3 linked regions of the Homo sapiens genome follow. The main gene of each other region encodes a partner of the protein of the gene in region 2 in a complex. Each region holds a gene or a part of one and is shown on either strand. Other genes may lie near its edges. The genes, in order: SUMO3, SENP1 and SUMO2.

Region 1 (3,743 bases), on a different chromosome or scaffold from region 2:
CTCAGTTTGCTACAGTCAATCCTCCACCTCAGCTATCCAGGGAAGTCAGAACCATTCTCCTGCCTGACCTAAAAGCTCTTCTTTCCAGCACCACCGGGCCCCAGAGTCCACCTCTTCCCCTTCGTCAGAGCCCCAGAGGGCAGAGCTGCTCCCACATGGGCTCAGAGGGGACCCACCAGAAGCGGGGCCTGTGAGGTGGCAGCCACTCAGTCATTCTGGAATTAAACAAGTGTTTTCAACGGAACTGGAGCCTGAGATTGACCACATGGCAGAGCTAAGTGTAAATACTGCTGAGAAAATTAATATCATATGTATTTTATTACATTTACTCTTCATTAAGAGGAAGCCACCTACAAAAACATAAAGGACATTTATATTTGACCTAGTTTTAACAAGTATTTAAATATTCAAACAACCCCAGAGTGGGAGAACTTTGACTTCACTGGAGTCAAAATGTAAAAAGCAAAGGTCACCCCAAATGCCATCTGGATAGGGCAGGTTTCCCTGGAGTCTGACCACAGCAAGCAGAGTGCAGACTTCCATAGAGGCCGCGACCATGGTTCCTGACGGTTCCATCCCACTTCCCGCCAGTGTCTGGCACTGAGCCTCCACCCTCATCTGTAAAGGGAGGGTGGTCACCTCCAGGACCAGGCCAGTATCAGAGACAGCCTCTTTACAGAGCCTTCAGCTCTAGTCATCTTCCACTGGGATGTAACATAGAGGCCGACAGTGCACACCAAGGGCTTCGGAAAGGTTCTCTTTTTATGAACACTGGAGAATGCGACTACAGACCCTCCCGAGAAGGAATGGCCAGTGCACCTGAATGCAGGGTGCATACCCCAGGACTGAGACTGGAGGGAGGCACACCCCAGCATGGCAATGGGGGAGACTAAAGCCCACCCAAGGCTGGATAAGGAGGGGTGGGCGCGCATGGTGGGGGAGGCGCAATGCAGAGAAGTGGGCGCACACCGTGGGGCGTGATAGGGAGGGGTGGGCACACACTATAGGGGGCGTGATGGGGAGGGGTGGGCGCACATCGTGGAGGGGGTGATGGGGAGGGGTGGACGCACACTGGGGGTGTGATGGAAAGGGGGACGCGATGGATAGGGGTGGGCGCACACTGGGGGACGCGACGGGGAGGGGTGAGCACACACTGGGGGTGTGATGGAGAGGGCGACGCAATAGGGAGGGGTGGGCGCACACCAGGGACGCGATGATGGGGACGGGTGGGCGCACACCAGGTGGCATGATGGGGAGGAGTGGGTACACACCATGGGGGGCGTGATGGGGAGGCGTGGGCGTACACCGGGGGGCGCGATGGGGAGGGGTGGGCGCACACCGGGGGACGCGATGGAGGCGGTGGGTGCACACGGGGCGCGATGGGTGGGAGTAGGTGCACACTGAGGGCACGATTGGGGAGACACGAAGGAGAGGGGTGGGCGCACACTGGGGGACGCGATGGCCGGGACACGATGCGGAGAAGTGGGTGAATACCGGGGTCGCGATGGGCGCCCTGGAAGGACGGCAGTGCTGCTCACAGGGGCCAGGCCCCTCAGAGCGCGCCCCTTGGGGGTAACCCCAGACGCTTGTTCCCGAGCCGACTCCGTGCACTCGACACAGGATCCCGCACCCAGGGCGATGCCGGGGGAGAGGGCGACCCCAACCAGCAATGACTCAGGAGAGGAGCACGCAAAGACGCTTCGGGGACACTGCTGGGGCGGGATCCGAGGGCGCCGCGCTCTGCAGGAGCAGCAGCGCGGGGCCCGACACCGGGCGCTCAAGGAGGCGCTGGGCGCGCGCCTTCCCAGCTGGGGAGGAGACGGGCGTGGAGCGGAGGCGTGGCCAGGCCCGGAGGGGGCGGAGCTCGCGGCACAGCGCGCTTCGCGGGGGCAGAGGGGGCGCACCTTGGGCGGGCCCACTTAGGGGCGGGGCTCTAGAGGGCGGGGAGGGGCGGAGCCTGTCAGGGGCGGGACGCGGGGCGGAGTCGGGGTGGGGGCGGAGCCGGGCTGGGGGCGGGACGCCCGCGATAGACGCGCGTGCAGGCGGGGTCGCCGCGCTTACCTTGGGCTTCTCCTCGGACATGGCTGCGCGAGCGGCGCGGGGAGGCGGCGCGGGGGAAGCAGCGCGGAGCGGGCGAGTCACGCTCTCGGCCCCGCCGCTCTCCCGCCGCAACTGTGCGCGGGGCCGCGCTTTATCCCCCAAATCCCGGCGCACCCGTTGGCCGGCACGGGGGTCACGTGGCTGCGCGCGTTCACGAGGCGCGCTCCCCGGGGCGTCGGGCGCGCGCAGGCCGGGCCGCGGCTCTGGGCGGTTGGAGATGCGTCACGGGGCGGGTCCCGCGCGACCCCGTCGGGCGCGGAAGCCCTAGGGCGCTGTGGGGCGCGGGCCAGGAGCGTTTACGGGGAGCCCGGGCCCTGGGGACCCTTGCCCGCCTCCCCGCGTCGCCCGGGCCCCGACTCCTTTCCTGGGGGCCGCGTTCCTGGGGCGCCGGGAAGTGAGGCCGGGGCCGCCGCCCATGGCCGCAGGGACCTGGGGCGGAGGAGGGAGGACGCTGGGGGTGACGTTCCCTCTCAGGAGCCGCGGACAGAGCGGAGAAGGCGGCCCGCGGGGTCCCGTCCGCGGGGGCCGCGCGAATCGGGCCAGCACCCTAGACGATTGGGGGCGCCACCCGCCTCCCTGCCGCCGCGGTTTCCTGTCAGCCCCAGGCCGGGCTCCTTTGGCCAACGCTCCTACGGGGCTGCCCCGGGCCCTCCACACCCGTCCTCAAGAAGACCCGTTTTACCTGTGAAGAAACTGAGGCACTGGGAGGTCAAACCACCCCCAGGTCAGCGCTGGTGAGCGGCGCCGAGCTTGGCCAGGCCGCCACGTCGGCGAGCGCGGGCAAACCCAGGCTGGACGCCGCCAGTGCCGGCGGAACGGGGACCTCGTGGACGCGGGAAACGCGCTGGGCCGGCAGGACGGCCTCCCCGGACTTGCGGGCGCCATTCCTGGGGTGCCTGGCCCGCCCCGGCCTCCATGTCTGTGATCCCAGGGCCTCGGATGGAACGGACCTGAGGGCGGACACCCCTGCGTCCCTCAGGAGTGCCCGGGTGGTGCCAGCCGGGGCGTGGCGGAGGTCTCATCTGATGGTGAGCCCGGCCGAAGGCGGGGGAGGCCGCACTTCAGGCTCAGCTGGGAAATGGCAGGGCCTGGATTTGAACCTAAGCGTCTGAGCCGTTTCTGTCCTGCCTGGGAAAGGCTCAGCCAACTGAGCAACGTCGCAAAGCCATGGAGACAAGTCTTCATGGACCATAACTTCACAAACCGTCTTCTACTCAAAAATTCACTTTCTTGGCTAGAGCCCCCACTTAGGAGGGGGAAGGCTGCTGAAGTCTTTCGGGGAGAGGGTCTGAGAGTCAGCCCCAGTCCCAGGCAGGTCATAAGGTGTGGTCCCTTCCTTCTGGAACCTGGAGCCCAGGGCCTCAGCAGAGGATGTGGAGGTGGGTGGCCAGCTCAGACGGTCCTGGGAGGGGGCTCCGCAACCAGCCCCTTCCGAGGGGACGTGGCGCCTCAGAGCCCACAGATTGCTGGCCCTGGAAGTGCCCTAGGGCAGGCAGGGTTCAGAGAGTTATCGACTCCAAGACACCGTTAATCATAAAACAACACGACCGTAGGTAGCACAGACACACTAAACTCCGGCAGGCTGTGGATGACGGCAGCCCGCTTCAGTGTTGTGGAAGTGAGAAACACGCAGCTTAGAAATC
Region 2 (3,743 bases):
ACACAATAATGACAAGCTCATGGGATAAATTTTGTTCCCCCCTCAACTCTCAAGTCCTCCTTATCTGCCTGGCATCTATCACAACAAACCAGGTCAAAATCTTACCTGGAAAATACACGACTCAGTGATCAATATTTTATCAAAGTGAGAATGTGATAAACAAGGTCAGTTGACCCCTAAAATCCGTATTTACACTAGAAAGCCTCACATCCTGTATTTAGACTTCTTGTGAGAGAACCCATTCTCTGTCACTGGAGTATGATCAGGAGACAAGGGTACCTGTTCTCTGAGGAGTCCTGACTAACTGGCGAGACTGAATCACACACATGAAAAATTTCAGATGAAACTCGTCTTTATGCATGGCTGCCTCCTAGAAATAGAGACAGAGTTTAATCCAAACGAACAGAGCTGTGAAATAAGATGTCAGTGACTGACATGGACCAGCTACACTCATGACTACTTGGCCTTAGGACTTGACAATATAATATAAAAGTATCAGCACATGAGGCAATACAAATAATCTACTTTGATGTATTTGACAGGGGAGGAAACCCTGAACTCAGCAAGCTGCTGAGAGTATCAGAAAGGCTGGGGGCCTCCAGAAACTGCCCTTCTTTAAGTCTGAGCTCAGACTGTGCCTGTGGCTGTGATCTGGGTGTAAAGGACCTATTAAGGGGGCATTTCTCTAAGACTTCTACAGGGCCTGGGTCCAGAGGCCTGCCAAGCTGAGGTGCTTGACAAAAAGCCTGAATGAACAAACATATTTCTTCCCATTATGTTCTCTTAGAAAGTATGGCAGATTCCAGGTTAATCAATGTGTCCCAGGAACAACAAAGCCCTTCAAAGGTCACAGGTGATTCCTGGGTCCTTCTCTATCTCTACCCAGAAAAGCAGATCTCTAGTGGGCTCCCAAAAGCTTTCCTCACAGCTCTGCCTGTTTCAAATTCCTCCAGAGTTCTGGAAGGTTCTACATCTTGCCAGAGTCTAGCCTAATCCGTCCTCAAGTTGCTTGTTTGTTTGTTTGTTTGCTTGCTGAATGGTCAATCAAGTATGAGGTGGTGCAGAGTACAGGATTGCAAGTTAAGAAACTTGTTTCCTAGTCCTAGATGGGCCGTGCACTTAAAACCTTTGGGAAATCACTTCACTTCTCTGAACCTGGTAAGACTAAAGTATCTCCAATAACCTCTACAAGCACTAACGTTCTGTGATTCTCAATAAAACACGAGATAGCCTGAGATCGATTTAGATCTCAGGTCCCTATCTGTCGGGGGAAGCCACAGGTTTCCGCAGATTTAGGGCCACCGCGAAAAGCTGCCATGGAAACTGGAACGCAAGCAAGCAAAACTCGCCGGGCGGAACCAGAAGGCGGCGGGTAAGGGAGCAGAGGGAACAGAGAAAAGCATAGGACGAAGGGCTCACTAACAGTATTCCGAGTACGAGAAAGCGAAAAAGCCCAGACTGAAAAGGGTACTGAGAAATTACGACTAGTCTTAAATGCTCCCTTCGCTTCTCGGGCCTCGCCACACCGCGCAGGCGCCCCACTGGTCCTTAACTCTGTTCTTTGACCTCCTGCCCCAGCCCCCTCCTCTTCAGCCACCTAGCGACTCTTCCGGTGCTGTGAAGGCGGTTCCGGTTCGCGGCGGTTCCCGGGTTTTGCGTTCCGCGCCCGGCCGGAAACCCCTTCGCATGGCAGCCGGTTCCGGTTCGGTGAGTGGCGGCGGGAAGCTGGGGGAGGGGTGAGGATGGAGGGAGCCTGGTCCAGGAGACTGTGTCGGACCCGGTCAGCCGGCCCGGGCTGGACTGGGCGGAAGCGGGGAGCACTGTGGGGCCGGCGCCTTTTCCTCTGCCCCGCCCCCTGGGACCACCTCCCCTCCCCCCTGCTGTCCGGTGGCCGCGCTGTGGCCGCCGGTGGCCGTTAGGCTACCTGAGGCCGTTCCTTCTGGTCTCTCTCTCCTGGGCCGCGGAGAGACCGTCTCCCTGCCGTTACAGCAGGCCCCATCCCAGCGCCCAGCCGTACTTGGGGAAAGGCCGGTTGCGATTCCGGGGCTTTCCCGCCAGAGCTGGGTCTTCTCTGGGGAGAGCTGTTTTCACCGGGAAGCTCGGCTTTCTGTGGTACCGGCTTCATCTCCCGCCTTCCTTGAGACCCGAGTGATATTTCTTGACTACTTCTGCGTCTCACGTAAACATTTCTCCAACTCTCCTACTCTGTGGTATCTCCCTGAGATGTGATATCGCTAGTGCCACCATCAGAAAGAAACGTCTGGACCCTCCTGCTCAGGTTATGAAAATCCCCTTAACTGCCACAATTTGCTTACCTGGCTCATCGCCTCCTGGTAATTCCCTTGAACCGTCTCTTTCTTGGTGTACCCTAACGTGATCTCTGGATCTATGCCTCGTTTCTCTTTCCTTGAGCTTGGTGATTTCTGTTTATCGGTGCCTGTGCAGTATTTCCACTATCTTGTTAGCAGTAACTTGCTTCTTTATCACTTTCAAGTCAGCCTTGTTAAAGTCATTTTACTTCATATTTGGTACACTTATTATATTTGGAGTGGTGGTGATTCTTGTAATATTCATATAAAGCCTTTTATCTACTACCAACTATTTGACTGAGGGTCTTTGTTATAATTGGTTATTCTGGATGTATTAGATCTCATCATCTCCTAAATCTTTATTCTTCATAAAAATAATTTGTGTTAAGGACTCATGTTGAAATACAGATTACCCTGACTTTGAAATTACAGTTAAAGCGCAACTTTAAGCATCTCTATAAGCATGATCCCTTAACCTACTTCCAGTTTACACTCTACCACCCTTTATTTTTCCTCTCTAGTCCCTTTTAGGAAGGCTTATTCATTTTTAACTGACTTCAATTAATTATCCCAACTGCAAAGATGGTCTTCATGTCACTCATCTAATGAGTTGTCTAGAGGGAGTGGATGGGTACAAAAACAGGTTCTGCTACTTCTGGCTAAGGGAATGCAGTTGTTGACTTGCATTGCGGCTTTGGAACTCTTGTCCTTTTCTTCCCAACTTCTACATCTTCTATCAGTTGTACCAGCTCTACTGTCTTGCGGTACCTGTTTATGGATCTGGCTTTCCCTACTGGACAGTGAGCTGCTCAGTGGCAGGGACCCTTTCTTAATGCACGTAGTCGGTGCACAGTAAATGAATGTGTATGAAAGAATTTGAACACTTAGGGTTTACGGCGTTAGAGTGTTAAGGTATTTAAGGTGTTAGAGTGATTGGGAGAGATTACATGTAAAAATAGAAGGAAAGAACCTCAAACACATGACGATATAGTACAAACTATTGTACACATAATTGTTTTTCAGAACTTGGAAAAGGGTGATTTCACATGGTTGCTTTCACACCCTTCTTATATCATAAATTGTTCTAACCACATCTTGGTCCTGGATAAAGCTAACATTGCGTCTCTCTCTCTCTCTCTCTCCCTCCCTCCGCCCCCCCCCCCCCCCCCGTCTCTCTCTCTCTCTCTCTCTATATATATTTTTTTCTTCTTTTTTTAGACAGAGTCTCGCTCTGTCACCCAGGCTGGAGTGCAATGGCTTGGTCTTGTCTCACTGCAACCTCCGCCTCCCGGGTTCAAGCGATTCTCCTGCCTCAGCCTCCCGAGTAGCTGGGATTATGGGTGCCTGCCACCATACCTGGCTAATTTTTGTATTTTTCGTAGAGACAGGGTTTCACCATGTTAGCCAGGCCGGTCTTGAACTGCTGACCTCGTG
Region 3 (3,743 bases), on a different chromosome or scaffold from region 2:
CCAGGATGGTCTCAATTTCCTGACCTCGTGATCCGCCTGGCTGGCCACTAACAGGAAATTTAAAGGAAAAAAATGCCCATTTAAAGACTCCAGTCTGAGCTCGGGGGCTCACACTGTAATTCCAACACTTTAGGAGACCAAGGCAGATCATCTGAGGTCTGGAGTTCAAGATCAGCCTGGCCAATATGGTGAAACCCCGCCTCTACTGAAAATACAAAAATTAGCCGAGTGTGGTGGCATCCGCCTGTAATCCCAGCTATTCGGGAGGCTGAGGCAGGAGGATCGCTTGAACCTGGGAGGCGGAGTTTGCAGTGAGCCAAGATCGTGCCCTAGCACTCCAGCCTGGGTGACAGACCAGATTCAATATCAAAAACAACAACAACAACAACAAAACCGACCTAAAATGCCCCAACCTACACCCTTGAACTTCCTGGAATAGCTTTAAAAAAGCACCGCTTTTTAATTTCCTTTAATACTTACCCAAATCTGTAATTACTTACTGTCTTACTAAAAAACACACTTCAGGAGATATAGGAACCTAGACTGTTTTAGTTACACAGTCTATCCCTTGCACATAGTAGGTGCTGCTCAGTAAGTATCAGTGGCATAAAAGGGATGAAAAACAGTATATAACCATCATCTACTTAAAAACAAAGGCCAAGTATTGTGGCTCACGCCTGTAATCCTAGCACCTTGGGAGACTGAGGTGGAAGATCACCTGAGGTCAGGAGTTCGAGACCAGCCTGTCCAACATGGTGAAACCCCGTCTCTACTAAAAACACAAAAATTGGCTGAGCACAATGGCACACACCTGTAGTCCCAGCTACTCCAGCCGGAGGTTGAGGGGGGAAAATTGCATGAACCCGGGAGGTGGAGGTTGCAATGAGCCGAGATCGTGCCATTGCAAGAGCGAGACTCTTGTCTCAAAAAAAAAAAAAAATTAATTAATTAAATAAATAAAAATACAAAAAATTAGCCAGGCTAGGTGGCAGGCGCTGTAATCCCAGTTATTCAAGAGGCTGAGGCAGGAGAATTGCTTGAACCCAGGAGCAGAGGTTGCAGTGAGCTGAGATCATGCCACTGCACTCCAGCCTGGGCAACAGAGCAAGACTCCATCTCAAAAAAAAAGAAATTAAAAAATTTGCATGGTGGCCAGGTGCAGTGGCTCACGCCTATAATCCCAACATTTTGGAAGGCCAAGGCAGGTGGATTACCTGAGGTCAGGAGTTTCAGAGCAGCCAACCTGATCAACATGGTGAAGCCCCGTCTCTACTAAAAATACAAAATTAGCCAGGCGTGGTGGTGCATGCCTGTAATCCCAGCTACTTGTGAGGCTGAGGCAGGAGAATCACTGGAACCTGGGAGGCGGAGGTTCCAGTAAGCCTAGATTGCGCCATTGCATTCAGCCTCAGTAACAAGAGGAAAACTCCATCTTAAAAAAAAAAAAGAAAAGAAAAGCCAGGCGTAGTGCTTCATGCCTGTAATCCCAGCACTTTGGGAGGCCGAGGTGGCGAGACGGGTGGGTCACCTGAGCTCAGGAGTTCAAGACCAGCCTGGCCAACGTGGTAAAACCCCGTTTCTACGAAAAATAAATTAGCCGAGCACGGTGGTAGGTGCCTATAATCCCACCTACTCAGGAGGCTGAGGCAGGAGAATTGCTTGAACCCGGGAGGTGGAGGTTGCAGTGAGCCGAGATTATGTCACTACACTCCAGTCTGACCGACAAAGCGAGACTCCGTCTCAAAAAAAAAAAAAAAAAAAAAAAGAATCGCCCAGTGGCACAAGCCTATAGTCCCAACTACCTGGGAGCCTGAGGTGGGAGGACTGCTTGAGCCTGGGAGGCAGAGGATGCAGTGAGCCATGATCATAATCCTCCCACTGCACTTCAGCATGGGCAACAGGGCAAAAGCCTGTCTCAAAAAAAAAAAGGCAAAATTTTGCAATTGCAGAAAAGTTAAATAAGATATGCATAAGAATAGTGTTCAAGGCCAGGCACCAGTGGCTCACACCTGTAATCCCAGCACTTTGGGAGGCCGAAGCAGGCGGATCACGAGGTCAAGAGATCGAGATCATCCTGGCCAATATTGTGAAACCCCGTCTCTACAAAAAATACAAAAATTGGCTGGGCACGGTGGCACGCACCTGTAGTCCCAGCTACTTGGGAGGCTGAGGCAGGAGAATCGCTTGAACCCAGGAGGCAGAGGTTGCAGTGAGCCGAGATGGTGCCACTGCACTCCAGCCTGGGCAACAGTGCGAGACTCTCAAAAAAAAAAAAAAAAAAGAAAAGAATACTGTTCAAAACCACCAAACTGAAGCATGATTCTGTTTGTTTGTGGTTTTGAGACAGGGTCTCATTCTGTCACCCACACTGGAGTGCAGCGATGAGATCATGGCTCACTGCAGCCTAGACCTGCCAAGCTCAAGCAATCCTCCCACCTCTGTCACTGAAATAGCCTGGACTACAGGTATGTGCCACCACAACCACCTAATTTTTTTTTAAGAGATGAGGTCTGGGCCAGGCGCAGTGGCTCATGCCTGTAAACCCAGCACTTTGGGAGGCTGAGGCGGGTGGTTCACGAGGTCCTGTAATCCCAGTGACTTGGGAGGCTGAGGCAGAAGAATCGCTTAAAACTGGAAGGCGGAGGATGCAGTGAGCCGAGATTGCGCCACTGCACTCTAGCCTGGGCAATAAGAGCAAAACTCCACCTCAAAACAAAACAAAAAAACCAGATGAGGTCTTACTATGTTGTCCAGACTGGTCTTCCAGCCTTGGCCTCCCAAAGTGCTGGATTACCACGCCCAGCCTATGATTTTCTATTTTGTATGCAGTTTTGCTAAAGAAGTTCTCCAAAAGGATTACCTTTTAAAATTCCCCTGTATCCTGAAGGGGCACTAGTGTTCAAATATAGAAGATGCCAGTTTATAAATTATTTAACACAATTCATAAGTTCATGTAGGGTGATTTCAGCAAAATTCTTCAAATAAGAGTATATGGTATCTTGCTGGGCACAGTGGCTCACGCCTGTAATCCCAGCACTTTGGGAGGATGAGGCAGGTGGATCACCTGAGGTCAGGAGCTCAAGACCAGTCTGACCAATATGGTGAAACCCCATCTTGCTGACAATACAAAAATTAGCTGGGCGTGGTGGCGTGCGCCCGTAGTCCCACCTACTCGGGAGACTGAGACAGGAGAATCGCTTGGTCTCGGGAGGCAGAAGTTGCAGTGAGTCGAGATTGCACTACTGCACTCCATCCTGGACAACAGAGCGAGACTCTGTCTCAAAAAAAAAAAAAAAAAAGGTATCTTTATAAGGAACTACATACAAGAAGGTTTACATATCAATTATGAGCACAGTATTTTCTTATTACATTGTAAATACACTAGGCATAAAAATACTTCAAACATTCTAAAGTTTTTTTTTTTTTTTCCTTTGAAATGCTCTCGCTCTGTCACCCAGGCTAGAGTGCAGTGGTGTGATCTTGGCTCACTGCAGCCTCCACCTCCCAGGTTCAAGGGATTCTCAGCCTCAGCCTCCGGAGTAGGTGGGATTATGCGCGTGTAACACCACGCCCAGCTAATTTTTTTGGATTTTTAGTAGAAATGGGATTTTGCCATGGTGGCCAGGCTGATGTCAACTGCCACCTGCCTCAGTCTCCCAAAGTGCTGGGATTACAGATATGAGCCACTGCATCAGGCCTAAAGGAAGTTTTTATCTTCACTGATCTTTCAAGTATAAACTCAA

Evidence for each region.
Region 1: the proteins of SENP1 (region 2) and SUMO3 are in contact, whole or in part, in a crystal structure (PDB 6NNQ), measured with the Homo sapiens proteins. Residues at the interface, in NP_001254523.1 of Homo sapiens: Gln440, Asp441, Glu446, Arg449, Leu450, Thr451, Lys455, Trp465, Leu466, Asn467, Asp468, Glu469, Asn494, Thr495, Phe496, Lys500, Arg511, Trp512, Lys514, Lys515, His529, Gly531, Val532, His533, Trp534, Gln597, Gly600, Ser601, Asp602, Cys603; in NP_008867.2 of Homo sapiens: Gln24, Ser53, Arg55, Gln56, Arg58, Arg60, Asp62, Gly63, Pro65, Asn67, Thr69, Asp70, Gln74, Glu76, Asp84, Phe86, Gln87, Gln88, Gln89, Thr90, Gly91, Gly92.
Region 3: the proteins of SENP1 (region 2) and SUMO2 are in contact, whole or in part, in a crystal structure (PDB 2IYD), measured with the Homo sapiens proteins. Residues at the interface, in NP_001254523.1 of Homo sapiens: Asp441, Glu446, Phe448, Arg449, Leu450, Thr451, Lys455, Asp456, Trp465, Leu466, Asn467, Asp468, Glu469, Asn472, Asn494, Thr495, Phe496, Lys500, Arg511, Trp512, Lys514, His529, Gly531, Val532, His533, Trp534, Gly600, Ser601, Asp602, Cys603; in NP_008868.3 of Homo sapiens: Gly24, Gln25, Arg56, Arg59, Arg61, Phe62, Asp63, Gly64, Gln65, Pro66, Asn68, Asp71, Asp82, Asp85, Phe87, Gln88, Gln89, Gln90, Thr91, Gly92, Gly93.

What each region holds. Positions count from the first base shown.
Region 1 is NC_000021.9:44,815,887-44,819,629, forward strand, and holds the start of SUMO3 (small ubiquitin-related modifier 3 isoform 1 precursor), read right to left. Parts: upstream 2,177-3,743; 5' UTR 2,083-2,176; coding exon 2,062-2,082; intron 1-2,061. UniProt on the Homo sapiens protein: Ubiquitin-like protein which can be covalently attached to target lysines either as a monomer or as a lysine-linked polymer. Does not seem to be involved in protein degradation and may function as an antagonist of ubiquitin in the degradation process.
Region 2 is NC_000012.12:48,103,992-48,107,734, reverse strand, and holds the start of SENP1 (sentrin-specific protease 1), read left to right. Parts: upstream 1-1,688; 5' UTR 1,689-1,707; exon of another isoform or gene 1,708-1,924; coding exon of another isoform or gene 1,925-2,125; exon of another isoform or gene 2,126-2,281; coding exon of another isoform or gene 2,282-2,333; exon of another isoform or gene 2,334-2,382; intron 2,383-3,743. Other genes in the region: PFKM (ATP-dependent 6-phosphofructokinase, muscle type), read right to left, coding at 280-370, 1,925-2,125. UniProt on the Homo sapiens protein: Protease that catalyzes two essential functions in the SUMO pathway.
Region 3 is NC_000017.11:75,176,247-75,179,989, forward strand, and holds part of SUMO2 (small ubiquitin-related modifier 2 isoform a precursor), read right to left. Parts: intron 1-3,743. UniProt on the Homo sapiens protein: Ubiquitin-like protein that can be covalently attached to proteins as a monomer or as a lysine-linked polymer.